7 linked regions of the Homo sapiens genome follow. The protein of the gene in region 5 purifies or fractionates together with the protein of the main gene of each other region. This does not show direct contact. Each region holds a gene or a part of one and is shown on either strand. Other genes may lie near its edges.

Region 1 (4,474 bases), on a different chromosome or scaffold from region 5:
AGGGTCGCATTGGTGGATTTCCAGGGCTACTTCATCATCTGCACTTTGCAGACACCACAGACCCACAGAACCTATACGGGGTCTTGGGCTTGAGGATCGCCGAGGACTAGAGTGAGGAAGCCAGAGTGGTTGTGGGTGGGCCTGGGGCGAGGGTGGCCCACGGGAAGGGAGGTGGGAGGGAAGGGGGTCCCCACAGTCCCACAGGCTCTGGGAGAGGCCTTGGGCCAGCAGCCCGGCTCCTGTGGATTCCGTTTCTGTGTTGTAAAAGAAGGAGCGACCGCTCACTGTGCAGTGACAGGAGCAAGAAACCAAATCAGGTGAGGCAACACCCCCTGCCCAGGTGGGCACCAGGCTGATAACGCAGCCCGTGCCATGATCTGGGCACTGCCTGGGGAGTAGTGTGCCCTCCTAAGCCACCTCCTCAGAGTGTCCAAGGACCTTCCCGACAGCTGGCTATCACCACGCCCGGCACCCTGCCAAGCTTCCCACCTCAGGATCCTGCAAGCAGGCACTCCCTACACACAGCTACTAACAGGCCCAGCTCCTGGCAACCTGAGGGCCCCGCTGGCCTTGGTTCTATGACTCAGGCCTTGTGAGCCTGCAGTGAGGACATGCAGCCGAAAGCCTCGAACCCAATGACTCAGAGCCCTGGCCCCCTGCGACCAGCCCAGGCAAATGCAACCTCTTGTGCCTCAGTTTCCCCACTGGTAAAATCAGAATAATGCCGCAGCAGAGTCAGGTTCAGGAGTGAGGTCAGATGATGCATTACTCTTTCTGTGTTGCTAACACCGGTGCCTGGCACAGTCGGCAAGAAAGAAATGAAGGCTGCTGCCACCCACTACCTAAGCCAAAGTCCATCACTGCCCCACGGGAGGGACGGAGACTTCGCTAGACAATGGCAGAGTCGGCCAGGAGCGGTGGCTTACGCATGTAATCCCAGCACTTTGGGAGGCTGAGGTGGGTGGATCACGAGGTCAGGAGTTCAAGACCAGCCTGGCCAACATGGTGAAAACCCATCTCTACTAAAAATATAAAAATTAGCTGGGTGTGGTGGTGTGCGCCTGTAGTCCCAGCCACTCAGGAGGCTGAGGCAGAAGAATCACTTGAACCCAGGAGGCTGAGGTTACAGTGAGCTGAGATCACACCACTGCACTCCAGCCTGTGTAACACAGCGAGACTCTGTCTCCAAACAAACAAACAGATAGACAATGGCAGAGTTGCTGGTTCTCCTAGGGCAGGCCACAGGCTGGGCATCACAGAGACATGAACCCTCGCCTCAACACAGCCCTGAAAGGGCAATGCCACTACCCTGCCTAACCACCAGGGAAACAGAGGCACAGACCCGGCGGTCGGGAGAGCCAGGACCCCACCCCCACCGGCCGGCAGGGCTAGGGAAGGCTTTACCTCGTCGTAGACGCTCTCGATCTCGTTGAGCAAGCTCTTGGAGCGCAGGGCCTTGGTGTCGTTCTGCTTGAAGTTCACAGCCTGGTGGTCAAGGGACTTGAGGTACGCCTTCTCATACTGCTCCCGCCAGATCTTGTTGAAGCCCTGCTGGGCCTCCCGCCACTCCTCTTCCTTGGCCTTCAGTCTGCGGGGGGAAGAGAGGTCAGCACCAGGGACAAGCCAGGGCATCCTCCCTGAAGCATCCCAGGGCTGGCCTGTCTTCCTCTGGGACTTGACTGGGGGTCCAGGACCCAGGCCCAGCCAGCTCCCAGCCTAGTCTGTGCAGTGGGCTCTGTGCACGTCAGAGGGAGGGCGTGATGGCCTTACAGAGCCAATGTGGCCGGCTTCCCGGTTCCTCCACCTCCTCCCTGGCACCCAGCACTCTCCGCATGGCTGTTGGCTCAACCACTCAGGTCCCCTGCTCAGCTGTGAGTCCCAAGAGAGGGACTGGGTCTGCCTCACTCAGCTGCATAATCCCAGGGCCAAGCACTGCACCTGCCTGAAAGTGACCACTTGATAAATGCCTGTTAACTAGCGCCGGACGGCATCCGAAATGCAGCATTAAATAAAATGCAAGCCACAGTGTAGTGGTCGCATCTGACTCTTAAAGCAGTTATTTAGATGTCTAGATGTATTATGTGCAAGGTGGAAAGTCCTAGAAGGTCACAGTGCTCTCCTCTCAGGAGTGGGAGACTGGGAAATACAGGAAGGCACCCTTAGGCCTCAGAGACCACCCCTGGAGATGACACCTGTTGACAAACAGCACTAATGAGCTCTCCAAGGGCTCCCTGCAGTGGGGAGGGGAGGGGAGGGGAGGGGAGGGAAGGGGGAAGGGGAAGGGGAAGGGAAGTCGGGACGCCACAGGGCACCTTTTCAGGACAACGGGGACAGCGGTGACAGGGTTCTTCTTGAGGCTCTCGATGATCTCCGGGGCCTTGTCGCCATAGATGCGATAAATGGCACGGCGCTGGATCACCTCCGACGTGCCTCCCAGGGAGTCGTCCAGCCGGAACTTCTCCTGGTCTTCCGGCGCCATCCGAGACAGCTTCTTCTGCACACTTTCCAACACACGGATTGTGGCCAGGTTCGTCTCCAGGACAACGTCTAACTATGGAAAGGAAGGCAGGACGGGGTCAGCCACTGGGGAACTCAAGAGGCCTCAGAGAGGAGCCTGGGACCTCAGAGACCAGAGGATTTTTTTGGGGGGGGGGTGTGTGTATTTAAGAGATAGGGTCTTGCTCTGTCACCCAGACTTGAGTGCTGTGGCACAATCAAAGCTCACTGCAGCCTCAACCTCCTGGGCTCAAACAATCCTCCCACCTTAGCCTCCCACGTAGCTAGGAATATAGGTGTGCACCACCATGCCTGGCTAATTAAAAAAATTTATGGCCGGGCACGGTGGCTCACGCCTGTAATCCTGGCACTTTGGGAGGCTGAGATGGGCGGATCACAAGGTCACGAGTTCGAGACCAGCCCGACCAACATAGTGAAACCCCGTCTCTACTAAAAATAAAAAAATTAGCCAGGAATGGTGGTGTGCCTGTAATCCCAGCTATTCAGGAGGCTAAGGCAGGAGAATCGCTTGAACCCAGGAGGTGGAGGTTGCAGTGAGCCAAGATCATGCCACTGGACTCCAGCCTGGGCGACAGAGTGAAACTCTGTCTCAAAAAAAAAAAAAAATTTTTTTTTTGTATAGATGGGCTCTTGCTTTGTTGCCCAGGTTGGTCTTGAACTCCTGGCCTCAAGCAGTCCTCCCACCTCAGCCTCCCAAAGTGCAGGGATTACAGGCGTGAGCCATCGTGCCCAGCCAATAAAACTTTTAATTACAAAAATTAATGTAGCCTGGGCAATACAGACCCTGTCTCTAAAAAAAGGAAAAAAAAATTAGCCAGGTGTGGTGGCTCATTCCTTTAATCTCAGCACTTTGGAAGGCCAAGGTGGGAGGATCGCTTGAGGCCAGGAGTGTGAGACCAGCCTCGGGAACACAGTGAGACTTCATGTCTACAAAAAAAGTAAAAAAAACAACTTGGGCATGGTAGTATGGACTTGTGGTTCCAGTTACTCAGGAGGCTGAGGTGGGAGGATCATTTGAGCCTGGGAGGTCAAGGCTGCAGCGATCCATGATTACGCCACTGCACTTCCAGCCTGGGAAACAGAGCAAGCAAAATAAATAAATAAATAAAATAAAAATAAATTTAATTTTTACATTAAAGAAACTTTTTAGGAGACAGGGTCTCATTCTGTTGTCCAGGGTGGAGTGCAGTGGTGTGATCTCGGCTCACTGCAGCCTCGGCCTCTCTGGCTCAAGCAATTCTACTGCTTCTGCCTCTCGAGTAGCTGGGATTACAGGCGCCCGCCACCACGCCCGGCTAATTTTTGTATTTTTGGTAGAGATGGGGTTTCGCCATGTTGCCCAGGCTGGTCTCAAACTCCTGAGCTTAAATGATCCACCTGTCTTGGCCTCCCAAAGTGTTGGGATTACAGGTGTCTGCCACTACGCCCAGCCCAAACAAAATTTTTAAACAGAAAGAAAAGTGCCATCTGGTAGCCAGCCCAAAGGCCAGCAAGACCCGGCAGGAAGCTTCCAGGAGCTGTTGGAATGTGCTGCAATTCCTGCTCCTCCAAACGAGACTGGGGCAGTGGAGGAGGATCAGGATGCATGTCCCATGGAGAAGGGGAACAGGCACATGCCGGGGGACCCGGCCACAGCAGCACACACACCTCGAAGCGCTCGTCCTCACAGCGGTGAAGCTGCTCCTCGTACGGTGTCTTCTTGGAGCTGACGAACGTGGAGTCCTCAGACCAGGAAGGGAAGGAGACCCAGGTGTCGTTCAGTACCTGCACCAAGAGGAAATGCCGTGAATGACGCTGCATGCCCCAGGAGCCAAGATTTACTGTTAGCCAGTGTAGAAAGTACCAAGATACATAATACCATCCTGATACATAATACCAACTGCCTTATACAAATGGGAAGGTGCATAAAGTTTTTAAGGAAAAACATGACTTTGGTCAAGTGGACACTCCCTTGGTA
Region 2 (4,474 bases), on a different chromosome or scaffold from region 5:
GAAAATGATGGGAAGCTGAGAAGAGCTGGCTTCTTTCATTTCTTCCTCTCCCTAGATTGTCAACTTTCTTTTCAGTAACCTGGGTACAAGTGTTAGGGGAAAATTCTTTGCGTAATTTAGAGCTTAATGGTATTAATAGTAAGTATTGCAGGTTGTATTTCAAATTGCCATCTGTACTTCTACTGATAACTGTTGTGAGGGGAATGCTGGGATTCATTAACTTGGAGATTCCTTAAGCTCATTTCACCCTCTTGTTCTCCTTTTCATTTTCTTTTGGACAGGTCTAAAAGTGATGGTGAAGCATTTGCCTAGTCATTCTTGTCTAGAGCCAGCTTCTGTGGTCCTGAAACCCAAGGGTTAGTTCAGGTGGTGTCATAAGCCAGTGTTAAGTTGCACAGCTATGAGCATTTGAAAAAGTGACAGTGTAGGCTGGGTGCAGTGGGTCACGTCTGTAATCCCAGCACTTTGGGAGGCGAAGGCAGGGGGATTGCTTGAGGCCAGGAGTTCAAGACCAGCCTGGGCAATATAATGAGACCCCATCTCTACAAAAAATATTTTAAAATAAATAAATAAAAAATAAGAAAGAAAAGTGACAGTGTGAATGCTCCCATTGTTTCCTCAGCCAAGATGTTCCGAAGGGTGCTCACCATCGTGCAGGCCCACTGTAAGCTGGGTTTGACTGCGACCCTCGTCCGCGAAGATGACAAAATTGTGGATTTAAATTTTCTGATTGGGCCTAAGCTCTACGAAGCCAACTGGATGGAGCTGCAGAATAATGGCTACATCGCCAAAGTCCAGTGTGCTGAGGTAGCTGGGCCTGGGCTGGGGGCGTCTGGGAAAGGGCCTCCTCCTATGGGCAGGGGAGTGATCAGATCGATTCCTCATGGGCAGACACAGGTCAGGACTTAGGCTCACCTGCTACCACTTCATACAGGATCCTCAGTCACCCTGTGGTTGGGTGGTACTAGACCCACTTGCTGCATATCTTCTGTCTTGTCACATATCTCACATACCCCTGAATTTGTGATGATTCTTTTTCCTAGCCATGGGGTTTACCAGTCATGGATTTCTGTGGGTGAGGATTAGCATTCAGGGCACAGGGATGAATGAAGGCCCCTGATACCACAGTGCTGCCTGGGAGCCTGGCAGCAAAGGGCTTTGCTCTGATAGCCCCAAGCGCCTAACTGATATGCTCCCAGCCCTGCTGGGAAGTGTGTGAAGAGGTGGCGGTACTCAGTAGCAGTGCTGACTCGTGTGTGGAAGTGTGGCTTAAATGGAAGAATTGCTGACACTACCAATTGAGAATCTGGTTTCGCACACTTGCAGCTGGTGTGAAAATAACTCCCTGGATGTGATTGCATTTAAAAATCTTTTAAGTGGTTAACATGTGAAAACGTCCAGTTCAATAGGAGGTATTAGGTTGGGTTTAGTTTTGTGCATGCATTTATTTTCAGTTGTACTGATTTCTAATTCACATAGCATTTTTTTTTTTTTAAAACAGGGTCTCACTCTGTCACCCAGGCTGGAGTGCAGTGGCGTGATCTTGGCTCACTGCAACCTCCGCCTCCTGGGCAAGTGATTCTCCTGCCTTAGCCTCCTGCGTAGCTGGAATTACAGACATGCACTACCACACCCAGCTAATTTTTGTATTTTTAGTAGAGACTGGGTTTCACTGTGTTGGCCAGGCTGGTCTTGAACTCCTGGCCTCAAGTGATCTGCCTGCCTCAGCCTCCCAAACTGCTGGCATTACAGGCATGAGCCACTGCACCTGACTGGTTTTGTTTTAAAGCTAATTCTGCTAGAGAAAGGTCTTCAAAAGTTTTAAATTGTGTGGTGTTTAAACTTGTAAAATGACCCCTGGTTCTTACTGTATTACAGGTCTGGTGCCCTATGTCTCCTGAATTTTACCGGGAATATGTGGCAATCAAAACCAAGAAACGAATCTTGCTGTACACCATGAACCCCAACAAATTTAGAGCTTGCCAGTTTCTGATCAAGTTTCATGAAAGGAGGAATGACAAGATTATTGTCTTTGCTGACAATGTGTTTGCCCTAAAGGAATATGCCATTCGACTGAACAAGTAAGAATTGAAAACTTGGAGCTTCCTCCAGGCCAGTTTCTCTTCCCCATTGAGAGTGCAGAAGGTGGCTGTTGTTTTGTTTTTTTGTTTTTCTCTCAGGAACTTCTTGGGCTCCAAAGATCTTGTTCTGTGGCCCTGGTCTCAGAAACCAGGGAAGACCTGAAGTAGGTGGTTGGAGTCAGAGGTTAGAGCATAGAGAAAAGGGGGGCTAGTCACCTTGAGCCCAAAGAACAGGGAGCAGAGACTTGGACTGAGCTGGGTGGGGCCCCATGGAAGATCTGGGCTCCAAAGGTGGGTGGGAGTTGGCATTTGGAGCTTTGGGCTGTGTGAGCTCTGTGGGTGGAGAGGAGGCCAGACTGGATGGCCTAGGGGCTGGGAAGGCAAGATGGGCTGGGCTGGCATCCCAAGTACGGACTGGCATCTGGAAGGAGCTTAGAAATGCCCACGCAGTATCCTCATCAACCCATGGCTCCACCCAAATATTTGTGCTTAAAACCTGGCTTTTGTAAAGCTCTGCCAAGTAAGGAGGAAGAGGTCTGCGCTTGCTCCTACAGTGACACAGGACTTCAGGTGCTGTAAGTGTTGCAGAAGGCCAGGCCCTCTATGGAGACAGGTCAAGCTATGTGCTATGGGTACTATACATAGGTTTTACTTAATCCTCACTTCAGCCATATAAAATGTTGTTCCCATTTTATAGAAGGGAAGACAAACTCATAGAAAGATTAAATTTCTTAAGTTTCTAAAATTATACCTTTATTTAATTTAGAAAGACTTTTTAATCCAAGTCAACATTTAGATTATTGTGAAAAACAGCAATTCCCTGCTTCTATTTTCCCACCCACAATTCTATTCCTTGAAGACAGCCGCTTTTGACTCTTTTTTGTTGTTTACCTTCATATTTCTTTCTTTCTTCCTTTTTTCTTTTTTTTTTTTTGGAGTTAGGGTGTCACTGTGTCACCCAGTCTGTAGTGCAGTGGTGTAATCACGGCTCACGGCAGCCTTGACCCCCTGGGCTCAATCAATCCTTCCACCTCAGCCTCCCGAGTAGCTGGGTCTACAGGCACGCACCACCACACCCAGCTAATTTTTGTTTTTTGTAGAGATGGGGTTTTGCTATGTTGCCCAGGCTGGTCTCAAACTCCTGAGCTCAAGCAGTTCCTCCTGCCTTGGCCTCCCAAAGTGCTGGGATTAGAGTCATGAGCCACCACACCTGGCCAGCCTTCATCTTTCTAAGCAATAGCTTATGTAGTAATTTCTTGATGATCAGTTATAGAAATTGCCTATTAACTTCCTACTGTAGGAGTTGAGGGTTTAGCTTTCTTACATACACCACTCTCCCCACTCCTGTTTTCTCTCCTACCATTCTCCCAATATGGGAATAGCACAAGTTGGGGGTTACTTTAATATTCAGTTACATTATTTTGACTGTGTAAGTATGTTCAGGCAGAGCTGTAGAGTACTATTACATTTTCCTTTTTTTTTTGAGACGGAGTCTTGCTCTGTTGCCAGGCTGGAGTGCAGTGGCGCTATCTCAGCTCACTGCAACCTCTGCCTTGTGGGTTCAAGTGATTCTCCTGCCTCAGCCTCCTGAGTAGCTGGGACTACAGGCACCCGCCACCACAGCCTGGATAATTTTTGTATTTTTGGTAGAGATAGGGTTTCACCATATTGGCCAGGATGGTCTCGATCTCTTGACCTCGTGATCTGCCTGCCTCGGCCTTCCAAAGTGCTGGGATTACAGGTGTGAGCCACCATGCCCGGCCTTACATTTTCTTTTTTGTAAATGTTTTTTTGCCTTGGAGTTAATAATTGCCTTGTCATTGTTTTTGCTTGGTTTTCTGTGCATTGAATAATTATTCCCCTCCAAAGTCTTCACATAACCATAAACTCAGTAGGGTCAGGTAATTTCTCAGTTCTGTTTTTCTGTTTCCCCAGTGGGATCCCCACCAGCACTCCATTCGCTTACTCTGTTCTGGCCTGCTTGCTGTCTAGGACTAGAGACACCACCAGCTGTTACCATGGGGTTTCCCTTGGACACTACCCCATGACTTCCCTGGGCCTCTTTGTTGTGTTTCCCACCCTGAAATCTCCACCCTCTTGGTTACTCATTTTGATGGAGCACATGTTCCAGTAGGTTCCTGAGAGAAGGGATGTAGGAGGAGAAGCTTTGGAGACTTCACATGTTTACAGATGTCTTTACTCGACTTTATACTTGATCAGTAGTTTGGCCAGGTCCTAGAACTAACATTGGAGCTTCCAGTGCAGCAGTTTGGCAGTCTGATGCCCTTTGCTTCCTCTCAGTGTGTTGTCTGCTGTGGTGGCTGTGCGTTTTCCTTCCCTTGAAAACTGGTAGGATCTTCTCTCTTTTTGGAAATTTGAAAGTGATATTCTTA
Region 3 (4,474 bases), on a different chromosome or scaffold from region 5:
AAGAAAGAGCAGTAAGATCAGACACTTCGGGAGCTGTTCATTTTTAAAGCTTTAAAGGAACAAAAGCTTAATAGCTCATTTAATATCTTGAACCAAACAAAGCACCAAAGAACTTTGCTTCAAAATTGGTAAAAGCAATAAAAGTTCACAGAACCAGTTATCATCATTGTCATACAATTCACACAGAATCAAATTCCCCCAATATGTTCCTTTAGACAACCCAGAATCTTGAATTGATTAAAAAGCAAATTACATCTTATTAAAATATGTAGCAAGACAAGCCCCTAATTTCACAAATTTACAAATTAACAAAAATAACATACACAGAATAGAAAATAAATAATAACTATATAATCAAGATTATAGGGAACACTTAAAATCCATGTAAATAAATTTTTCAAGCACCAATATGCCAAAACACATGAGCTAGACATTGGTCTTTTGTCAATGAAGAGATACTATGTATAATAATAGCATACAATAAATTTGCTCTTAATATGCTCTAGGAATTACTTTGATATCACAAGTTCAAAGAAGTTTAATACTCACTTGGCATGTTAAATGTGTTCAGTAAAAAACTAAGTAAGCATTTTTATATAATCATACTTCAATAATAGGGTTATCATGCACAGATCAAAGGTTCAAGTACAATTTTCATCTTCTTTACTGTATCCTCAACAACGATTACAGTTATATGTGTTACAGCCCTCAAATAAAGTTATTTTAATAACCTAAACCAAATGGTAAAAGAAATATTAGTATTTTCTGTCTTTCAAAGAAGACAAAACCTAAGGGCTAGATAGTACAATTTTCTGAATTACATTTTAAAATGGTTCCATCATTCCTAATTACCTGAATTTGTTAATATCTGCTGAACAGGAGTCACACCTGCAGGGAGTGCTAAGGTAGCAGCTGTAGCAGCAGCACTCTGAAAAAAACAAAGAAAAAATATCAAAACCACATACATGTATAATACTGTTTCTCTCTAGCATATTTTAATAGTGTATGAAACTTTTTGTTTAGAATATACCAAAATTTAAAAAATCTAGTAAGGCTAAATCCCATTTTATAAAATGGTACAAGACTGACCAACCTAGCCTCCAACCTACTAAATTATTTTAAGCAGTTAAATACAACAATATAATTGGGTTTTTTCCCCTAGAGAAGGTGCTCTAAGTAAATCTCACAGGTACTGCAGTTTTTTTTTCCTTCTTGTCCCATCAATCTTCTTTAAGGTACCAAGCCTTCCTATACTCAATCTAACCTACACATTTTTAGACAATACCCACATTAACAATGCTGTACAATATATGAAATGGCTATTTCATTATTGCTTCCTTTCCCACTGTTTCCTTATCCCCATTTCCTTGAGATAAAAGTATAATTATCTACTTTTTAGAATTCTTAACTTTTAAAATTTCTACTAAAATCAACAGATATCTATAAAGAACACTGTATCAGAAGACTTCACTGGGAGTACAGCTGACAATTCTTCTAAGATGTCATATTAGCAAAGAAAAAAGGGACATACTGGCATTATATTCTAGGTGAAACATGCATTAATAACAGATTAATACAAAAAATCTGTAAATCTTAAGAAAAGTCACACCAGGCAGACTGGCTCACGCCTGTAATCCCAGCACTTTAGGAGGCCCACGTGGGCAGATCGCTTGAGCTCAGGAGTTTGAGACCAGCCTGGGCAATATGGTGAAATCCCATTTCTACAAAAAATACAAAAATTAGCTGAGCAGGGTGGTGCACACCTGTAGTCCCAGCTACTTGGGAGGGTGAGGTGGGAGGATGGCTTGAACCTGAAGGTGGAGGTTGCAGTGAGCCGAGATTGTGCCACTGCACTCCAGCCTGGGCAATAGTCACAAACTTTAGTTTCAACATTTTGAAATCAAGTTAGTATGTGACACTTAAGTTATAAAGATATAGACGGGATTATATTATGAATTTCTTTAAATCCAGGACAAATTCTTGACTTCCTGGAGAGTTCTGGAGAGTTTTCTCCTCCTGTCCTCCCGCAAAGAATTATGCCATTCTCTGGTTTTTTATTCTGCACTTTAAGTATTTTCCTGTATCCCGCTATAGCTACACATTTTGGTAGTTTTTTCCCTCTCTTTTCAATCTTCTTTAGCTACCAACCATTCATACATTCAATCTAACCTATACAGTTTTAGAACTACCCATATCTGAAAAAGCTTAAAAAAATAAATATAACTGCTTTGGAAATGCTAGTGTCAGAGAAGTCAACAAACTTAGAAAATTATTAAACTGAGTTAATAGTTCAACTACTGTCTAGTCTGGGCTCTAGGTACATAGCTTTCCAAGAAAATACACTTGTTGCCACTTGACAAACCTAAGTAATTTCTACATCTTGGGCCTGAAATTCCCACTGTGTCTCCAGAATTTAACTATAGCCCACCCGGGTGATTCGTATTTAAGTTGGATACTCAATTACCCAATTTAAAATAAAACTTGGCTATATAAGCAAATTAAAGGTTATCTAAGTTTAAGGAAAATATTAACCACCACATACTATTAAGAAATATTTAAAAAGAAAAAAACAAAAATATTTAGAAATATTAAGTGCCTATAATTCATATTTTGAAAGACAGCAATTCTCCCTCTACCAGCAAACTGACATAGTAGTTTCCATATAGAATACACGACCCAATAACTACCTGCACACCCTCCACAAATTCAAGCTGCATAACATATATTTGCTGAGTCATGTACCATACACTAACCACCTTATACTTAATAACTATTAAAATTTCTTCTTGTATTCCACAAAACAGCCCAAACACAAATAATGCATTAGACCAATCATTTCATAAAAAAGAACCGAAAACAATGGTTTTCTAGAAGTTCCCTGAAATAGCCTTCTACTATATTATCTCACGTTTTTATGATTAGTTCATTTCTAATGCAAACAGAGCCATTAGAAAGAACAAATATATTTTTGCTATTTCTAAATCAGAATAATGCAAACCCACAAAAACCTAAAACACTTTTATTGGTACAGAGCCTATACTGATTATGTTCAGAAATACATGAAGGAAACACTGACTAAAAACAACAAAGTAAAATGTAAAATATACAGAAATGTTAAATCAATTTTCCTGAGTAACTGACCTATGATTTGTTTAAATACATATGCTCTTTAGAATAAAGGAGACTTAACCAGTAAGTAAGAGATGGACCACTAATTTTTATCCCAGAAATAACTTACTAATTCAAAATTCTCTTCCACAACATTTAAAATTCTTTTAGAGGGGCCTACCACAAGAGACTCTGCCAAAATTTGTTTTAAAATAATGTGAGTTATTCCCTAGGATATAGTCTTAATAACATCAACTACAATAAGCAACATATAGTGAGACTTTTTTTTTTTTAAGGGTGGAGGTTAAAAAAAATTGGGGCCTTAGACTTAAAATGGAGTTTTTTCCAATAAAAAATCTTGTGAGAAATAACAGGCATGAAATTTTTTATTTTCATGTAAACGAAAAGATTCTAGAAACTGCAACTACAAGTACAAACAGAGATCCTCGATATTTGTGAATTTAAAAACTGCAATTTCTACTATCATGTAGAAACTTTCAATTCTGCCACAGTATGAATTTGTGAGGCTGGTAATGTGTAGGAGGAAGTCATCTGTCTAGTGGGTAAGCCCTTCTTATCTGGCTTATAAACCACAAATGAACTTTGTGATTCAGTATCACTCACAAAGTAGAACTCATCTTTTCATACACTGCTTTTTGGTTTAAAAAAAAACTTGAGGCTGGGCGTGGTGGCTCACACCTGTAATCCTAACACTTCAGGAGGCCGAGGTGGGCAGATCGCTTGAGGTGAGGAGTTGGGCGACCAGCCTGGCCAACATGGTGAAACCCTGTCTCTACTAAAAGTACAAAAAAATTAGCCAGGTGTGGTGACATACACCTGTACTCCCAGCTACTCAGGAGGCTGAGGTGGGAGGATCACTTGAACCTAGGAGGCGGAGGTTGCAGTTAGCCAAGATCACACCACTGCACTCCAGCCTGGGTGACAGGGTAAGACTCCATCTTCAAAAAAAAAAAAAAACTTGAACGGAGGGAAAAAAAAATCTCATTTCTAGTACTAACTAGTTACATAGGTTAAAAGATCTTTTTACAAATATTGATTCTTTCACCTTTAAATAAAAGTTTTGGCTGAAGAATGAAATGTAAGAGCTGAGTCACCACTCAATGAAATCAACAGTCTGTATATTTTAAACAGAATAAAGAAAAACCATTTATAAGGAAGTATTGAACTACTCTAATCTGACTATATTTTAATGTTTTATCCAAAAAAAAAAAAAAAACAAAAAACAACTTCAAGGATATAGGTAAAGATTTTCTAAGGATCTGAAGAGGTTCTTTCAAGTTTACAGTTAACCTATACTACATTTGTTGAGAAATATTATATGTCTGAAATGTAATTTGAAAATATG
Region 4 (4,474 bases), on a different chromosome or scaffold from region 5:
GGGCACTGGATTCTCCTGATGGACATCAGACAAAAGAGCCACAACTGTGGAATATAGAATTTATTCTGGATATTGTAGCCTTATGAACAAACTACCTGAAAATCATCTAAAATGAGCTGAAATAGTTAAAAGTACAATACAGGATGTAAGACAATTTCATTTAAAACATCCTCTTAGAAAGTTATAAAAGCCTGACATTAAAAAGATATTTTATGCTGGCCAACATGGCAAAACCCTATCTCTACTAAAAATACAAAAAAAAAAAAAAAAAACAAACCAAAAACCAAAAACCACGTTTTTTTGTAATCCCAGCTACTTGGGAGGCTAAGGTGGGAGGATCACCTGAGCCCAAAAGGCAGAGGTTGCAGTGAGCCAAGATTCCGTCACTGCACTCTAGCCTGGGCGAGAGAGGAAGATTGTCTCCAAAAAAAAAAAAAAAAAAAAAAAGGATGGCTGGTGCAGTGGCTTGCACCTGCAATCCTAGCATTTTGAGAGGCCAAGGCAAACAGATCCCTTGAACCCAGGAGTTCAAGACCAGCCTTGGCAACACAGTAAGACTCCATCTCTGCAAAAAATTTTAAAATTAAATGGGCATGGTGGCATGCACCCGTAATCCCAGCTATATTGGAGGCAGAGGGAGGAGGATCACTTAACCCTGGGAGGTCAAGGCTGCAGTGAGCCAAGCCATGATTGTGCCACTGCACTCCAGCTTGGATGACACAGTGAGACTTTGTCTCAAAAAAAAAAAAAAAAGGTGGTTGGGGGCTGAGCACAGCCTGTAATCCTAGCACTTTGGGAAACCAAGGCAGGTGGATCATTTGAAGTCAGGAGTTCCAGGCCAGCCTGACCAACGTGGTGAAACCCCGTCTCTACTAAAAATACAAAAAAATTAGCCGGGCGTGGTGGTACACACCTATAATCTCAGCTACTAGGGAAGATGAGGCAGGAGAATCACTTGAACCCAGGAGATGGGAGGCTGCAGTGAGCTGAGATTGCGCCACTGCACTCCTACCTGGGTAACAAGAGTGAGGCTCCATCTCAAAAAAAAGAAAAAAAAAAGATATTTTAAGTACGGTTCCTAACTTTAAGAACATATAATTTTTCAAAACTGAGGGACAGAGATAGGAGAGATATTTTCCAATGTATGCTCTTTTTCTTTTGGTGTTTTGGTCTACCAGAAGACAATCTATTTAAAAATTTTTTTTAATTAAAAAAAATTTTTTTTTTGAGACAAGGTCTCACTCTGTCTCCCAGGCTGTAACGAAGTCACAGGATATCAGCTCACTGCAGCTTCAAACTCTTGGACTCAAGTGAGCCTCTGCCTCCGCTGCCCAAGCAGCTAAGACTACAGGCACATGCCACCACACCTGGCTAATTCTTTTATTTTTTTATGAAGAAAGAGTTCCACTATGTTGCCTGGTCTGGTCTTGAATACCTGGGATCGAGTGTTCCTCCCACCTCTGGCCTCCCAAAGTGCTGAGATTACAGGTGTGAGCCACTGCACCTGGCCTATTTAAAAATTAAGTATTTAAAAATTCAGTGGAGGCCGGGCGTGGTGGTTCACGCCTGTAATCCCAGCACTTTGGGAGGCCAAGGTGGGGAGATCACTTGAGGTCAGGAGTTCGAGATCAGCCTGTCCAACATGGTGAAACCCTGTCTCTACTAAAAATACAAAAAAATAGCCAGGTGTGATGGTGCACACCTGTAATCCCAGATACTCAGGAGGCTGAGGCCAGAGAATTGCTTGAGCCCGGGAGGTGGAGGTTGGGAGATCCTGCCACTGCACTCCAGCCTGGGGGACAAGAGCAAAACTCTGTGTCAAAAAAAAAAAATTAAGTGGAAAAAAATCAGAGAACAATACTGATGTAATAAAGGAAGAGCTTGTGAAAATATTAACTCATATTTGTCTATAATTTTTCCAAAATAATTTTTTTTCTGAGCATAAAGATAATATTTACTTATGTAGAGAATTTAAATTATTTGGAGTACCATAAACAAAGTAATGTTGCCCCCAAACTTACCCCACAAAGGCACCAACACTTAAAGTTTTGGTGACAGTTCTCGCTTCTTTTAAATTTTGGGTTTTTATTCATTTGACTTTTTTTTCTTGAAGTATGATTTTCATAAAGATAAGTGCACAAATGTTAGCTGTGCAGCTCAATGGACTTTCACAAACTGAATAAACCTGAGTAAATAGCACCCAGCTCAAGATAGAAAACATTATTGGTCCCCCAGAGACCCTTAGTTTGGCCCTATTCTAGCCACTATCCTCCGAAGGAAATCAATCTTCTACCTTGTAACACTATAGATTAGTATTGTCTGTTTTTTAACTTTACGTAAACAGACTTATAACAAATACACCCTATTGTGCTTTGCCTCTTTCACTTACAGGTATGAGATTCATTCACATTAGTGTACACAGCTGTAGATCTTTCATTCTCAATGCTGTATATAGTACGACACACGAGTAACGTACAAATTATCCATTTTACTCTTAAGAGGCACTTTAGTTTTCAGTTTGTTCCTATTTTGAATAGTGCTAGTAATGTTCTTGTACGTGTCTTTTGGTGAACATATGTACCACTTCTACTCAATATATACCTAGGATTAGAACTACTGGGTAGAGAATACTGCATCATTTTTTAAAGGTGAAATGGGGCCGGGCACAGTGGCTCATGTCTATAATCCCAGCACTTTGGGAGGCTGAGGCAGGTGGATCACCTGAGGTCAGGAGTTCAAGACCATCATCCAACATGGTGAAACCCCGTCTCCACAAAAATACAAAAATTAGCTGGGCATGATGGCGGTTGCCTGTAATCCCACCTACTCGGGAGGCTGAGGCGGAAGAATCACTTGAACCCAGGAGGCAGAGGTTGCAGCGAGCCAAGACTGTGCACTCCAGCCTGGGCAACGAAGCAAGACTCTGTCTCAAAAAAAAAGTGAAATGGGATTCTATTGTATAGATGTACTATAGCTTTTAAAATCACTGTATCATTGATGGGCTTTTAGGTTATTTCCAAATTTTTGCTTTTATCAACAATCTTGTCCAATGATCTCTTCAGGAAAAAATTCCTAAAAGTACAAGTGCTGGATGAAAAGAGTGATGTGGCCGGGCGTGGTGGCTCAAGCCTGTAATCCCAGCACTTTGGGAGGCCAAGGCGGGCGGATCACAAAGTCAGGAGTTTGAGACCAGCCTGGACAATATGGTGAAACCCTGTCTCTACTAAAAATACAAAAATTAGCTGGGCATGGTGGCGGGCGCCTATAGTCCCAGCTACTTGGGAGGCCGAGGCAGCAGAATTGCTTGAACCCGGGAGGTGGAGGTTGCAGTGAGTCGAGATCGCGCCACTGCACTACAGCCTGGGCGACAGAACAAGACTCCATCTCAAAAAAAAAAAAAAACAAAAAAACAGAGAGGAAAGAAAAGACTGATATACGTTTTCTTTTTCACTATATATTGACTTTTCTCCCAGGTCATTCAGAATTTTTAAAATTTTGATCTATAAAACCTCTTTATTGGGGAATAGATTACATAGAATACCACCACTGGTTTACAAGAAAAGTTCAATAATTTTTTTACAAATATCCTCAGCAACACCAAGGAGCAGAATGGTTGGGTCAAATGGTAAGTATATGTTTAACTTTGCCGAAGTCATTTCCAAAGTGATTGTAGCATTGCCTGTTCCCATTAGCAGTATACAAGCTGCTCCTCTTCCTTACTCATTGCTTGATATACAGCCATTCTAGTGGGTTGTAGTGTGTGTCTCACTGTAGTTTTAATTAGCATTTCCATGATGACTAGTAATGTTGAACATCTTTTTATGTGATCCCAGCCCATTCATATATATCTTCTTTAGTGAAGTGCATGTTTATCTTTTGTCCATTTTAATCAATTAGCTTTACTGAGGTACAATTTACATATAAAATTCACTAATTCTTTGTGTAACATTAGATAAGTGTTCGCAAAAGTATACAGCGGTATAACACAATCATGATACAGATCATTTCCTGTTACTCCAGTGAGTTCATTCACACCCCTTTGCAGTCAATTCCCTCCCCACAACCTCTATTCTCCAGAAACCACTGATCTGCTTTCTGTCACTATGGCATAGTCTTTTCTGGAATTTCACATAACACAATCATACCATCTGTAGTCCTATGTATCTGGATTCTCTCCTTAGTGTAATGTTACTGAGGGTTATCCATAATGTTGTGTATACTGGTAGTCTGGTCCTTTTTATTGCCAAGTAGCATTCCACTGCACGGATGGACACACAACAATTTGCTTATCCTGTCACCATCTGATAGACATTTGGTGAGAACCCTGTTTTGGCTATTATGAATACAGTTTCTACGAACATGTGAATATAAGTCCTTGTATAAACATATATTTTCATTTACCTTTGATAAATACCTATGGAATGAGATTGCTCAGTGGTGTGGTAAGTGTATATTTAATTTTATAAGATATTGC
Region 5 (4,474 bases):
GCCAGGAAAAGAATGTCTGGAATAATCCAAAAAAGGCAAAGCTTAATTCTTTCACTAAAACCAAGAAAGTGACAGCACAGAAAGGGAAATAAAATAAGAAAATAAGTATCCGAGGTAGACTTACTGGTCAACAAAAGCCCAAAAGAGAAACCGTGCGTGTGCACCGAGGCACTCACACAGGGCCCTTAACACAGATGGCTCTTGATGCCGCCGTAAGACTTTTTTAAGCTACCCCCCAAAACGAAAGCTGAAATGAAGGAAACAGATATTGTCAGGGGGAATATTCACTGCTCAAAAAGATCTGCCAAGGCATCTTTTTAAACCTTTCTTCTGGTTCGTTTAAATATGGTTTCATGGATAGAGTGACCAGCACCAAACACAGGGCTCCAGTGAGTCTAAGCCAGAGCTTTCATGGAGTGGCTCTTAATTGTCATTTTTGCATGTGGAATGAATGCACATAGGAGCAGCACCTCATATACCAATGGACTGTGTCCCAGAAGCTTGTTACATTGGTTGTTTAGAACAGAATACCTTTCTCCAAAGAAACTATGTCATAAATTAAGCTTGAAGCCCACGCAGATCCAATGGTTTATTGAACTCATGAGCATATCTAGATTTTACTACTGATACCAGCTTAAATTTTAAGGCACACAGTGTGCAGGAAGAGAGAGAAAAAGAAAAAAGAACATTTTCTCCCCTGAGGGTCATTATGAGCCAAGAAAAATGGTTTGGAGATGGCAGTTGGACTTGTTATCCTCCCAAACTTTCTACATCCTTGTTCCTCTTTCCCCAGTAACCAAAATGGCTTGTTCTCTCGTTTTGTTCCATGTCTCCAACCGCAGCAGGACATCCAAATGGATACTACCTCCCAGAGTGTCCCATGCACCAATAAACGACTTCTTTTTTCTCTCAATCAAAATCTTCATTTCTTCCCAGGGATATTCACCTCCATCAAGCAGATGGGAAGTTAGCCCGATTAATTCATACTAACATAGAAAACACTCCTATCTGCCTAGATGCTTTGCTTTATACCAGATGTGTCTAATTAAGAGGGATTTTAGAGAGTGTAACAAAATGAAGTTTAAACATTCAAACTCTTGGGAGCAGGATAAATTTATAAAGTATATGCTGACAGAGCCATGGGGCTCATAGAGCAACCATTCTAATGCACTAGGCCTTTTTTTTTTTTTTTTTTTGAGACAGAGTCTCATTCTATTGCCCAGACTGGAGTGCAGTGGCATGATCTCGTGATCTCGGCTCAGTGCAACCTCCACCACCTCCCAGGTTCAAGTGATCCCCCTGCCTCTCTCCCCGTAGTAGCTGGGATCACAGGCGCGCTCCACCATGCCTAGTTAATTTTTTTTTATTTTTGGTAGAGATGGGGTTTCACTGTATTGACTAGACTGGTCTCGAACTCCTGACCTCTGATGATCCACTGGCCTCGGCTTCCCAAAGTGCTGGGATTACAGGCATGAGCCACCGCTCCTGGCCTGCACTAGGCCTTTATAAACTGATCATCTGTGATCTGTGAAAGGGAAAAATGCAACAAGGGCTTGTCCTCAAGTCGAGCAAAACAAGAGGGGAACTCCACAGGTTTTATTTCAAGACTTGCCTGATTTACTCTTTCTTAGAATCCTCTTTCCTCCTTCAGTAGAGAAAGAAATTCCATAGGCTTGGTTCTGAGGGTAAAGTCAAAGTCTAATTCAAGTTAGAAAAGGTTCCAGTGAGAACCCACTCTGTAAGGCGGCAAAAACGGTTCCATCTGGAGAATCTGAGCCCTGGTTCAACAGGAATGGAGGTGGATATTACACCGGGGGTCCTTATCCTGGCACCACAGAGAGCAGAGAGAGCAGACCACCTGGGGGCTAGAGGCTTGGACATCAGTTTGTAAGGAAATTCACTCAGTCAAACATCTGAAAATTACCATTCGCTAAGCTCACATGATAAAAACAAATTATAATTTTAATTTAGATGACTTAATTCAACAGATGACACTGAGTGACTAAATTTCCTTTGAGTATTAATTACATTTAGATGCAATGACCTTAATAACTCTGATCAATTGCAATGGTAAAATTACTGCTGTCAAAAATGTTTCAACCCATTTGTAGTGAGAGCCTGCTATGACCCTGGCATGAAGCCAAAGACTGTGGATTACAGAGAAATAATGTCTATGTAAAATCAATAAAAATATGTTTGCATTTGCTTTGATGTTTCTAGTAATATCTTCAATTAGGATTACTACTTTATAATCTACAAGATTCTGCCCCCTAGAATTTAATAAAAATAAGTGAAGTAAAATTCAGTGATACATTATCCTTTCTCACACCAACTTTCAACTGGCTTTTTTTTTTTTTTTTGAGACACAATTTCACTCTGTCACCCAGGCTGGAGTGCAGTGGTACAATCTCGGCTCACTGCAACCTCTGCCTCCTGGGTTCAAGCGATTCTCGTACCTCAGCCTCCCGAGTAGCTGGGATTAGAGGCGCCTCCCACCACGCTCAGCTAATTTTTGTATTATTAGTGGAGACGGTGTTTCACCATATTGGCCAGGCTGGTCTCGAACTCCTAATTTCAGGTGATCTGCCTGCCTCGGCCTCCCAAAGTGCAGGGATTACAGGTGTGAGTCACCATGCCCGGCCTCAATTGGCTATTTGATTCCATATATTTAATAAAACTCATCACAAGACAGCTACTCTAACAAAAATGGATGAATAATTGGATAAAGTTCCTTGGCAGCCGGGCGCGGTGGCTCACGCCTGTAATCCCAGCACTTTGGGAGGCTGAGCCTGGCAGATCACTAGGTCAGGAGATCGAGACCATCCTGGCTAACACGGTGAAACCCCGTCTCTACTAAAAATACAAAAAATTAGCCCAATGTGGTGGCACGCACCTGTAATCCCAACTACTCAGGAGGCTGAGGCAGGAGAATTGCTTGAACTTGGGAGGTGGAGGTTGCAGTGAACCGAGATCGTGCCACTGCACTCCAGCCTGAGCGACAGAGCAAGACTCCATCTCAAAAAAAAAAAAAAAAAGGAAAAAAGAAAAGTTCCTCAGCAATAAATTGTAACAAAAACAAATAAATTGTAAAGTGTTCTTTTAAAAAATTTGAAAGTTCAAAATCTTTGTACTACTGTAGCACTGGGGGAGGGGGTGTTAATACAGACTTAGAAAATTTCTATTTAGGTGAGGAAAGAAAGATATAACCAGATGGAATTGAAAGAATTCAGAAGAAGGTTATATGCCAGAGAAAACCATAGCAGTTGCTCAGAAAGTATTTCTTGAAATCCCCTGTTTTACTATTTATACATGCCTGGTAACCCAGCTACGATTGCAGCAACACTGTCACTCAATTCCCACCAAAGACAGCCATTGATTGTTTTGACCTGAAACCTAGCAGATCAGTCTTAGGCCACCAGCCTTTCTTAATTCTCCAACCATAAAAACAAATCATTTAGTCTGCCCTTTTTAAGTTGGTGCACACGCATGTAAAACCAGAAGTTTACATGTCTAGGTTGCTTTCTCATTGCTTGCATAACTAAAAAAAAAAAATAGGCTTTTATTTAAAAATAGAATTTGGCAAATGAATAGTCCATACTATGGACCAAGTGCCTTTGGAATGCTTTAATAAAAACAAGCCACCGAGATATTTAACTTTGAAAAGAATCAACTCTACAGGCATGCTATTCACTCTGGCTTTATATTTTGTCACTTTTGAAAAGAACATGCATTTTCAGAAGACTCACCACACTGGGAAAATTGCGTAGGCATCTAATCTATGTTTTTACCAGGCAATGTTAAAAATTTTATAAGAAAAATATTTTAAAATAAAAGATTACCAATTACTCTGTCTCATTAAAATTAATGTATTTGTCATTTTTTTTTATTTGCCTATGCACATTTGTACTGTCATAACTGTATTATAGTGTTTCCACAATTTTGAATTGTTTTTCAATATTACATTATAAATATTTCTCAAGTATTTTCATAGTATCAGTATTATAAAGAAAGATCTTGACTTTTATGCAGTCTTAATCTGATTTGAGAGTAGGATAACGTTTACATTTTTTTTAAAATTGATACTTTTTATATGTTCCAGAAAAATGTATAAAACACGAGCATTAATTACTTCTTCAAAGTTTGAAAAGAAATGGATGTATTAAGTCATGTGTTTTGGGAATTGGATTGACTAAAAATCTTAATTTTTCCCTAGTTATTGGCCATTTAAAACTTTTCTTGTTTATGAACTTTTAATTTGTGTGGAGAATGCCAATTTATTTAAATACACATTTACATATAGTATATTGCCAAACAACTGTGCATAGTACTTCATCATAATTTTTTAAAACCTTTTTTGTTTAATAACTGTTTATTGATTGTTGTTTCTTTCCTTTGTAATTTCCAATTTTAATTTGCGTCGATTTTTGCTTGTTTAATTTATTATTGTTTTAAAAGAGTCAACTCTTATTTATTT
Region 6 (4,474 bases), on a different chromosome or scaffold from region 5:
AACTCTAGCACTGTTGACATTTGGGGTCAGCTAATTTTTGTTGTGGGGACTGTCCTCTGCATTGTAGGATATTTAACAGCATGCCTCAGCAGCATCCCCTCGTGAGATTCTACCCATCACCACCCTGAGTCATGACAATCAAAACGTGTCTCCAGACATTGCCACACCTCCTTTACAAGACAAAATCGTCCTGTGTTGAGAACCACTGCGCTAGACCATGAGACCTAGGCTTCTCAAACTGGAAGGCTGCCTTCCCTTCAGGTGCCCGTGTCTATTAAGTGAGGCTTCAGGAAGGAATATTGGATTTTCTTTCTACTAAATTGTTTTCACTCAAGACTCAGCAAGAGAAGAACCGTTTATAGTGTACATTGAATATTTGACACATGAATATTTCATAAGGCAACCGCCTGTTAGCACTCAGAGTGAAAATGACTGTGTAGGAATAGAAAGAGTAGGCGGGCCTTTGTCTGCAGATGTGGAGGAAACCGTTGAAAATCTGGCCCTTTCCCTCTGCCCCTCCCTGTGTCCCCTTTTCCAATGTTGGTTTACAGAATCTTGCTTTTGCCTTTAACGTTATTGTTATTTTACAAAGAAATGGACGTATTCGATTTCTAAGTGGTTTTCACCAAAAAAAAAAAAAAAAAGGTTTTGAGGAATGTTTTGAAAAAGAATGAAGGACTTTGGCCCCTCATATTGATCATTCATTTTGTTTTTAAGTGCTCTCCACCTGCCTGAAGCAAGAACAGCTCTTTTAGAGGCAGGTAAAGGCAGCCCAACTTTATGGGCCTTCAATTTTTCATGACTATGCAGCTTTCCTCTCTTCCTTTGTTAGAAACAAAAAGGGGGGGTCCCTTCCCCTCTGTTATCCAGTCATCTGCAAAGACCCCAGCCCTAACCTGCTGGATTGCACATTCACTACAGTAACTTTTGAACTTTCTCTGGAGGGAGGTTAAGGATTCTAATACCAGAAGGCTGGGCCTAGCAAAGAGCTATTTGAGGATAACAGCCCTCCTTTGTGCTCCTCTATCCGGTCGCTGCCTCGTTCTGGCCTATCATCCTCCAGGATGTCTCTGGTTTTTGCCTTTGCTCTCCATCTTTGGTGTCCCTTCTAGCATCACTGCCCCTCCAAAGCTCAGCCTCTTCATCTCATTCTGATTGTTGCTATAGCATCTCCCTCCGTATCCCCCCATCAGTCTTCCCAACAACCACCACCAGACCCATCCTGCGCCATCGCCCTCCACCCTCTGTGATAGCTCCTTCTGTTTTTCTGGATGTGCTACCATCCATTCTCACCTTTTAAATTCATCACAGTTGCCTGTGACCCCCTTGCCCATCTGTGCCTCTCCCAGCTCTCTGTGCTGTGATCTTTTCCCCTATTCCCTACCGTTTCTCAGTGCTTTATCAGACCCTGCTCCTCCTTAGCTTAAGCTTTACCTTTTCCACCAGTTTTGTGAGATCAGCCCACCCCAGCCAGAACTGTTTTTCTACTGTTATTTTTGCCCTCCTAGCCAGTTACTAGTCCTCAATAGACCATTTCTAAGACCTCTTTTGAAGCCCTCCCCATCCTCACCCCTACCTTAGTGTAGTGCTAGGCACATAGTGGGCTCTTGGTGAGTCCTGGGTGGTCAGGTGATGGATAACATTTTTCTCCTCTTCTCCCTAGGTTGATCTGTTCCAGCTGCAGGTGAACACCCTACGACGTTATAAACGACACTACAAGTTGCAGACCAGACCAGGCTTCAATAAGGCCCAGTTAGCAGAAGTAGGTAGACAAAATTGCCCTCTAAAGAGAGCCAGCATTGTGCTGCTTCTGATGGTTACCCTGATTCTCCCTTACCTTGTGTGTCTGCTAATTGTAATTTCCTCCAGAGTTCTGGAAGCAACTCTGTATTCCTCTTTGGCAATTTAGAACCCCACAGCTTTAGACCTGCAAAGGCCTCAGTTCCAGAAAAGAAACCATGGCACAGAAAGAGGAAAGGATTTGCTTAAAATCACACAGCAAGTTGATAGCAGAATTGAGCCTGGGATCTCATGACTCCAGATTCTAAGTCCTGAGTGTTCATTTGTTTGAATCTTTTTTGGAAGATTCCTCTTTTTGTTTTTTTGGAGACAAGATTTTGCTTTATCACCCAGGCTAGAGTGCAGTGGCTCAGTCTGGGCTGACTGCAGCCCCAACCTCCCAGCTTCAAGTGATCCTTCCCACCTCAGCCTCCAGAGTAGCTAGGACCACAGGTGCACACCCCTATGCACAGCTAATTTTATTTTTATAGAGATGCAGCCTCACTATGTTGCTCAAGTGATTCTCTTTGGCTCAAGCCATCCTTCCACCTCAGCCTCCCAAAGTGCTGAGATTACAGGCGTGAGCCACTGTGCCTGGCTTAGCAAAATGCTTTTTAGATATGATCATTTTGTGTGTCAGATTAATCATTTCAAAACCTTGATGTTCTACAGGAGCTATTTTTTTTTCCTTGATTTCTCCTACTCTGGTGTTGGTAATGACAGTATTTTAATGAATGGCACCCAAGAAAGTTTTCTCCTGCCCTGAGTTATTAACACAGTTTGGATTACGGGGAAATGCTCCACTGGCCATTTTTAAAATACATGAACTGCCTGGCTTGATAATTCTGTCTTTGTCATTTCTGCAGGTATTTTCTAATCCCTCTTTTCTTAATATATTTTTCTGCCTATTACAGAAAAGTTGGAAAATGGAGAAAAGAAAAATATAATTCTATCATCCAGAGATAACCACTCTTTATGTCTAGTTCTCTGTCTTTTTTTATCTGTTTCAGCCACCTTGATCCATTGAGATTTCCTGAAAGGCTTCCAGCCTGTTTCATTTTTGGTTTTTCCTTTAGAGGTTTCTTGCTCGACCGTCACTTTTTCTTAAACAACTCCTTCACCAGTGTCCAGATGACACACAGGAGGTCAGAAGCCTCTCCTACTTTAAAATAACATCACCCATTTGCCAGTGTTCTCCCTGGTGGAAGGGAAAGAATGAGGTGGGGCAAGAGGAGACCTGCATTCTCATTACTTATGGAATGAAGTATTAGGAGCATTAGTAAATGATGCATTTTCCTTCAAACCTGATATGTCTTTCAGGAGGCAGTTATGCACTACTTAGAAGAATTTTGGGGTTCAGATGCCTCTGTTCAATTTGTTCAATTGGCTGTTCATTTAACACAATTTTTTTTTTTTTTTAAAGACAGAGTCTTGCTCTATCTCCCAGGCTGGAGTGCATTGCTATGATCTCAGCTCACCACAGCCTCCACCTCCCGGGTTCAAGTGATTCTTCTCCATGTTTCCCGAGTGGCTGGGATTACAGGTGCCTGTCACCACACCCGGCTAATCTTTGTATTTTTAGTAGAGGCTGGGTTTCACCATGTTGGCCAGGCTGGTCTCGGACTCCTGACTTCAGGTGATCTGCCTGCCTTGGCCTCCCAAAGTGCTAGGATTACAGGTGTGAGCCACCATCCCCAGCCTAACCCAATTTTTATTTGTTTTTGAGACAAGGTCTTGCTCTGTCTCCTAGGCTGGGGTGCAGTCACAGCTCACTGCAGCTTCAACCTCCTGGGCTCAAGTGATCCTCCCACCTCAGCCTCCTGAGTAGCTGGGACCACAGGTGCATGCTACGACACCTGGCTAATTTTTTGGTAGAGATGAGTTCTCCACTGTGTTGCCTAGGCTGGTCTCGAACTCCTGGCCTCAACTAATCCTCCCACCTTAACCTCCCAAAGCATTGGGATTATAGGTGTGAGCCACCACGCCTGCCCCACAATTTTTTAAAGACACATTTCTTCCCACTTTCAAGGCCTGAGAGGTTTGGTAGCAGCTGGCCAACCAGAGCAGTCCCAGTCTCTCCTCCATGAGTATGACTGTGAAATCATGCCATGACAGGTGGTTGGCTGCCACTGAAATAGAACTGCACCTTGGAAGAGTTGTAGGTTAAAAAGCCACTTTTGGATCCTGGAAATTAAACCACCTACATCCCTGGGGAGGAAGGGCAAAGGGCACTCTGAGTTCCGCACATGGCAGGAAGTTCTTCAGCATTTGTCATTCCCGCCACAGCATGCAAACAACTCCATTCGCTTCTTTGTACAATGTAGAATTTGCGGTGTGATTTGTGCATGGTTTAAGGAACTTTGGTATTTTCCCCCCACATAGACTGTGAGTCGACACTTCAGGAACATACCTGTGAATGAAAAAGAGACCCTTGCCTACTTCATCTACATGGTGAAGAGTAACAAGAGTAGACTGGACCAGAAATCGGAGGGTGGCAAGCAGCTTGAGTGAGGATGAAGCACATCTTAAAGGAATGAAGTGTAATGCTTGATGCACAGGTGATATCTACTACATTTAAGCCCATAAAGACTGTTAAATATTATTGTAAATAAAAAAGTTTGAATGATGAATACTGTAAATCTTTTTGGTCAGGAGGATTATATTCTCATGATTCAGCATGTGTATAGAAAGACTT
Region 7 (4,474 bases), on a different chromosome or scaffold from region 5:
CCCAACCCTCATTTTAAAACCCATCATTACTTCTACCATCGCAGGAACAAGGACTCTGCTGGCACCCAAACTGCTGGCTGATGATGAGCGTTAAAAATTCAACACATACACGCGATTTCCTGTAACCTCAGGAATCCATGTTTACACACTTTAAACAGTTGTCACATCTTACTTTCTGCATGGCTCTTTAACTCGGTGTTCCTTAACTTTACACGTTATACATGTGGTATCTTTTGTCAATGAAACACCAAGTGTCCTAAAGTCAAAGCAATGTGTTACATGACTTTATATTGCTCGCAGTGCTTAGATGTAGCAGGTGCTCAATTCATTTTTGTTGAATGAATACATTTACTGTATACAACTAATCAAGTGTGCGTTTTCTCTAAATTCTTATAAAAACAATACTTGGGGAAAATAACAAGAAGACCCTCCCCAATCCTAGCACAAAATACCAAAAAAAAAAACTTAAAATGGGACAAAAACAACCTACAATCCTTTTCCTCATCCGCACTTCTGACTGTACATCAGGCCAGCCATGCAGAAATGAGCAAGAGGGTGCAAGACTACTCTTGGGGTACCAGGGAGAACAACCTAACTCCAAGGAGCCTCCTCAGACACCCTCCACTTCTGGGCCATTCCTTAGCAACAGAAGCAGAAGATGAAACCACTTTCCATAACTGCAGCTTGGAAGTCTCTTTTCTGAAAACTCTCCCTGACAGAGTATCTGGGATATGTTTTGGAGAATAGCTCTTAGGGCTGCATTACACCGACGATCGGCAAATGGTCAAACATTGAAAGATGATTCATTGCCATTTAAAGGAGCCTTACCTGCATTCCGTATCCTCTCTTTGTACTGCTGATCTAGTTTTTTCATTCTCTTCTGATATTCCTGTAATGTACCTGATTTTGAACATTTGAAAAATAAAATTATTGTGAATATAAATCTGCTCTACATTTTGCTTCCTAAAATTATTATCTAGCATCAACACTGACTGTTTCAGTAACACCAAAGGAAGACACACCTCAGCAAAGTTAACTCTGGTTCTTAACCAAGGCACACAGCAGAAACCACTAGGGGCCCATTCAAAGTCTACCCAACCCAGTGGATCAAGGGTCTGTAGTGAGTGAGGGGGAGTGGAAAATTGCCAATATCTCCACACTATTCTGATCAGTTGCTGCAACAGTCTGAATCAACGGGCCTTCCTTTACTGGAAAAGGTTCATTCTCCTTCAGTAAGGTCTAGGTCAACGCTCTCCAGTAGAACCTTCTGCAATGGTGTGTTTTATATTTGCAATGTCCAACATGGCAGGCACTAACCATTTGTGGCTATTTTAGCACTTGAAATGTAGCTAGTGGAACCGAAGAACTAAATTATTAATTAAATTTAAACAGCCACATGTGGCTAGTGACAGCATTAAACAATTCAGGTATAGATTCTAACCAAATCGCTATTCATTTCATTGCTCTTCCCACAAAACAGTTAATTATGAGGGGCCCATCTTGTGGGGGGAAGTGTTTCCTGATTATAATGCCTGACCATGGGCTAGTCCAAGGGCGTGGATCACTCACCAGCAATAAAAGCACATAGTAGAAACAGCAGTATCAGGCTGGGCATGGTGGCTCATGCCTGTGATCCCAGCACTTTGAGAGGCTGAGGTGGGCGGATCACCTGAGTTCAGGAGTTCAAGACCAGCCTGGCCAATGTGGTGAAACCCCGTTTCTATTAAAAATACAAAAATTAGCCGGGCCTGGTGGCAGGCGTCTGTAATCCCAGCTACTCGGGAGGCTGACGCAGGAGAATCGCTTGAACCCAGGAGGTGAAGGTTGCAGTGAGCTGAGATCGCGCCACTGCCCTCCACCTGGGTGACAAAAGCGGAACTCAGCCTCGAAAAAAAAAAAAAGAAAAGCAAAAACAGTTTCACTGACAAGGGGACTCCACAATATGAAACCGAAGAGCTCACTGCCACAGCTAACTGTCCCCAGGACCTTGCAGTGTGCACACTGCTGTGCTAGACGCTCCTCATGCATAATCACATCTACTCTTACTTGCTTCATTTTGCAGATCAGAAAACAGATTAAACAAGAGAAACTGGCATGTCCAAGGTCACATTACTAGAAGCAGGGAAACTGGGATTCCAATCCCTCACAAAACTCCAGAGCCTGCACTCTTTTTTTTTTTTTTGAGACTGAGTCTCGCTTTGTCGCCCATGCTGGAGTGCAGTGGCACGATCTTGGCTCACTGCAAGTTCCGCCTCCAGGTTCACGCTATTCTCCTGCCTCAGCCTCCAGAGTAGCTGGGACTACAGGTGCCCACTACAACGCCCAGCTAATTTTTTGCATTTTTCAGTAGAGACGGGGTTTCACCATGTTAGCCAAGATTGTCTCGATCTCCTGACCTCGTGATCCACCCGCCTCGGCCTCGCAAAGTGCTGGGATTACAGGTGTGAGCCACCGCGCCTGGCCTCACAGCCTGCACTCTTAACTCTGATGCTGCACTGCCTTTAGCAGCTAGCAGCATTTGACAAAATACAATCTACTTTTAATGTAACAAGCAAAAAGGAGAAAACACAGTGTGAATAATCCACAAGGTCATTAACATTTGGTTTAGAAAAAACAGTAAAAACTTTATTCTTTGATAACAATGTCTCTCCTAAAAATCTCTAGCTTTAGGCACAGTGGCGTTCAATTCGTGCTCCATTGAAAGTCCCAAGTGAGATTTCATTTGAAGAAAGAATCTCACACATACTGGAAATAAATGTTTCAAAATCAAGGAGCTGGAAAATCACCACTTTACTGACAGCAAAAGATAGCAAAATGTACTGGATAGCTAAGATCAGCCAGACCGTGTTTTAAATAACTCCCACAGAGAAGTGAAATACACAGATTTCAAGGGTTTGTAATATTAAGAAGCATATTTAGAAATGCAGGATTCAATCACACACCAACCTTCTTGCAGTTGTTGCAACTGCCTCTTGAGAGAAGCCAGTTTGTCCTGATACATCCTATAAAAAAAAAAAAGTCACACTAACAGATAAAAACATTCAATACTCAATTCCAAAATAACCTACTCACAGAAATTAGCTGGGCTGTTATGGGAAGGTCATTAATGTCCTTCAGGGAAGAGAGGAAAGTAAAGTCTGCTTGCTGGCTTAAAATGCACCAGCAGCCACAGGGATCAGAAAGGAACAAGAAAGAACCCTGTGTTCCTCAATCTTATTCTAATTTTGTAGATTCTCCCATGTTATCCCATCTTTACAGAATCCGTCTAAAACTTGCAACGATAGCAGATTTTAATAAATGACAATTATAAACAGGCAAGCACACACACAATGTAGAAATGGCATTAAACACAACTCTTACATCAACTCTACAATTAGATTGTAAGTTACAGGAGAGTAAGATTATGCCTTCAGCATGTTTTTCTATGCAGATATGCTTAGCAGTGTAAGAACTAAGTCAATAAACCTTCATGTCATTTTTTAAAGCACTACTCTTTTAGGATCAGAGAAATAATAGTAATTCAGAAAGAAAAGTTAAAAGGCAGCATTTACTGGCAGCCCCAGCTGGATGGGAATACACAGCACACACGAAGCAAAAGCATTTGGCATGTTAGTTTTTTCCTCTCACACCTAATGGATTATAGGCAGTCATAACTTCAGCAAGTTGGTTTGAAGGTGGGTTCCACATATAAATCACATTTCAGCAAGTATTTTTGCTTCTACCTGAAAAACACCCTCAATTTAACAGTGATAAAAACAAGATTTGTGATCTGAAAGAACACTGTCCAACATATAACAAGCACAATAACCTTTTGGTATATGTGCTGCTGAAGTGAGCACATGGGCGTGATAACCTTTTTAGCGCTCAAATAAGGGCTGCAAATACAACCCAACCCTCTGTAAGGGGAGGAGAGTAGGCAGAATTTGAGACTCACACACATCTCACTCTTTCAGGGCAAATTCTGATGCACTTTAGATTTCCCCTTGAATTACACAAGGCATTCCATTTTAACCGAAATTTTTTCTGTATCATCAAATACTAAGGGAGGCCAGGCAAGGTGGCTCACGCCTGTAATCCCAGCACTTTAGGAGGCCGAGGCGGGTGGATCACTTGAGGTCAGGAGTTCGAGACCAACCTGGCCAACATGGTGAAACCCTGTCTCTACTTAAAAAAAAAAAATTAGCCAGACGTGGTGGTGGGCGCCTGTAATCCCAGCTACTCGTGAGGCTGAGGCAGAAGAATAGCTTGAACCCAGGGGCTGGAGGTTGCAGTGAGCCGAGATCATGCCACTGCACTCCAGCCTGGGCGACAGAGCAAGACCCTGTCTCTTAAAAAAAAAAAAAAAAAGGCTGGGCACATTGGCTTATTCTTGTAATCCTAGCACTCCAGGAGGCCGAAACAGGAGGAATGCTTGAGCTCAGGCATTCAAGACCAGCCTGGGCAACACAGTGAGACCTAGTTTCTACTAAAAATT

Evidence for each region.
Region 1: the proteins of MKX (region 5) and SIN3B purify together in Homo sapiens (affinity purification with mass spectrometry, with the first as the bait; one large-scale study listed by BioGRID). This does not show direct contact.
Region 2: the proteins of MKX (region 5) and ERCC3 purify together in Homo sapiens (affinity purification with mass spectrometry, with the first as the bait; one large-scale study listed by BioGRID). This does not show direct contact.
Region 3: the proteins of MKX (region 5) and GTF2A1 purify together in Homo sapiens (affinity purification with western blotting, with the first as the bait; one study listed by BioGRID). This does not show direct contact.
Region 4: the proteins of MKX (region 5) and SAP130 purify together in Homo sapiens (affinity purification with mass spectrometry, with the first as the bait; one large-scale study listed by BioGRID). This does not show direct contact.
Region 6: the proteins of MKX (region 5) and SAP30L purify together in Homo sapiens (affinity purification with mass spectrometry, with the first as the bait; one large-scale study listed by BioGRID). This does not show direct contact.
Region 7: the proteins of MKX (region 5) and SUDS3 purify together in Homo sapiens (affinity purification with mass spectrometry, with the first as the bait; one large-scale study listed by BioGRID). This does not show direct contact.

The regions. Positions count from the first base shown.
Region 1 is NC_000019.10:16,863,487-16,867,960, reverse strand, and holds part of SIN3B (paired amphipathic helix protein Sin3b), read right to left. Parts: exon of another isoform or gene 4,318-4,474; coding exon of another isoform or gene 4,282-4,317; coding exon 4,165-4,281; intron 2,552-4,164; coding exon 2,313-2,551; intron 1,589-2,312; coding exon 1,405-1,588; intron 1-1,404.
Region 2 is NC_000002.12:127,276,780-127,281,253, reverse strand, and holds part of ERCC3 (general transcription and DNA repair factor IIH helicase/translocase subunit XPB), read left to right. Parts: intron 1-622; coding exon 623-807; intron 808-1,878; coding exon 1,879-2,081; intron 2,082-4,474. UniProt on the Homo sapiens protein: ATP-dependent 3'-5' DNA helicase/translocase. Binds dsDNA rather than ssDNA, unzipping it in a translocase rather than classical helicase activity. Component of the general transcription and DNA repair factor IIH (TFIIH) core complex.
Region 3 is NC_000014.9:81,196,557-81,201,030, forward strand, and holds part of GTF2A1 (transcription initiation factor IIA subunit 1), read right to left. Parts: intron 929-4,474; coding exon 853-928; intron 1-852. UniProt on the Homo sapiens protein: TFIIA is a component of the transcription machinery of RNA polymerase II and plays an important role in transcriptional activation. TFIIA in a complex with TBP mediates transcriptional activity.
Region 4 is NC_000002.12:128,018,060-128,022,533, forward strand, and holds part of SAP130 (histone deacetylase complex subunit SAP130), read right to left. Parts: intron 1-4,474. UniProt on the Homo sapiens protein: Acts as a transcriptional repressor. May function in the assembly and/or enzymatic activity of the mSin3A corepressor complex or in mediating interactions between the complex and other regulatory complexes.
Region 5 is NC_000010.11:27,728,116-27,732,589, forward strand, and holds part of MKX (homeobox protein Mohawk), read right to left. Parts: intron 1-4,474. UniProt on the Homo sapiens protein: May act as a morphogenetic regulator of cell adhesion.
Region 6 is NC_000005.10:154,451,739-154,456,212, forward strand, and holds part of SAP30L (histone deacetylase complex subunit SAP30L), read left to right. Parts: intron 1-717; coding exon of another isoform or gene 718-735; exon of another isoform or gene 736-761; intron 762-1,663; coding exon 1,664-1,762; intron 1,763-4,161; coding exon 4,162-4,290; 3' UTR 4,291-4,474.
Region 7 is NC_000012.12:118,382,540-118,387,013, reverse strand, and holds part of SUDS3 (sin3 histone deacetylase corepressor complex component SDS3), read right to left. Parts: exon of another isoform or gene 3,630-4,474; intron 3,003-3,629; coding exon 2,947-3,002; intron 901-2,946; coding exon 829-900; intron 1-828.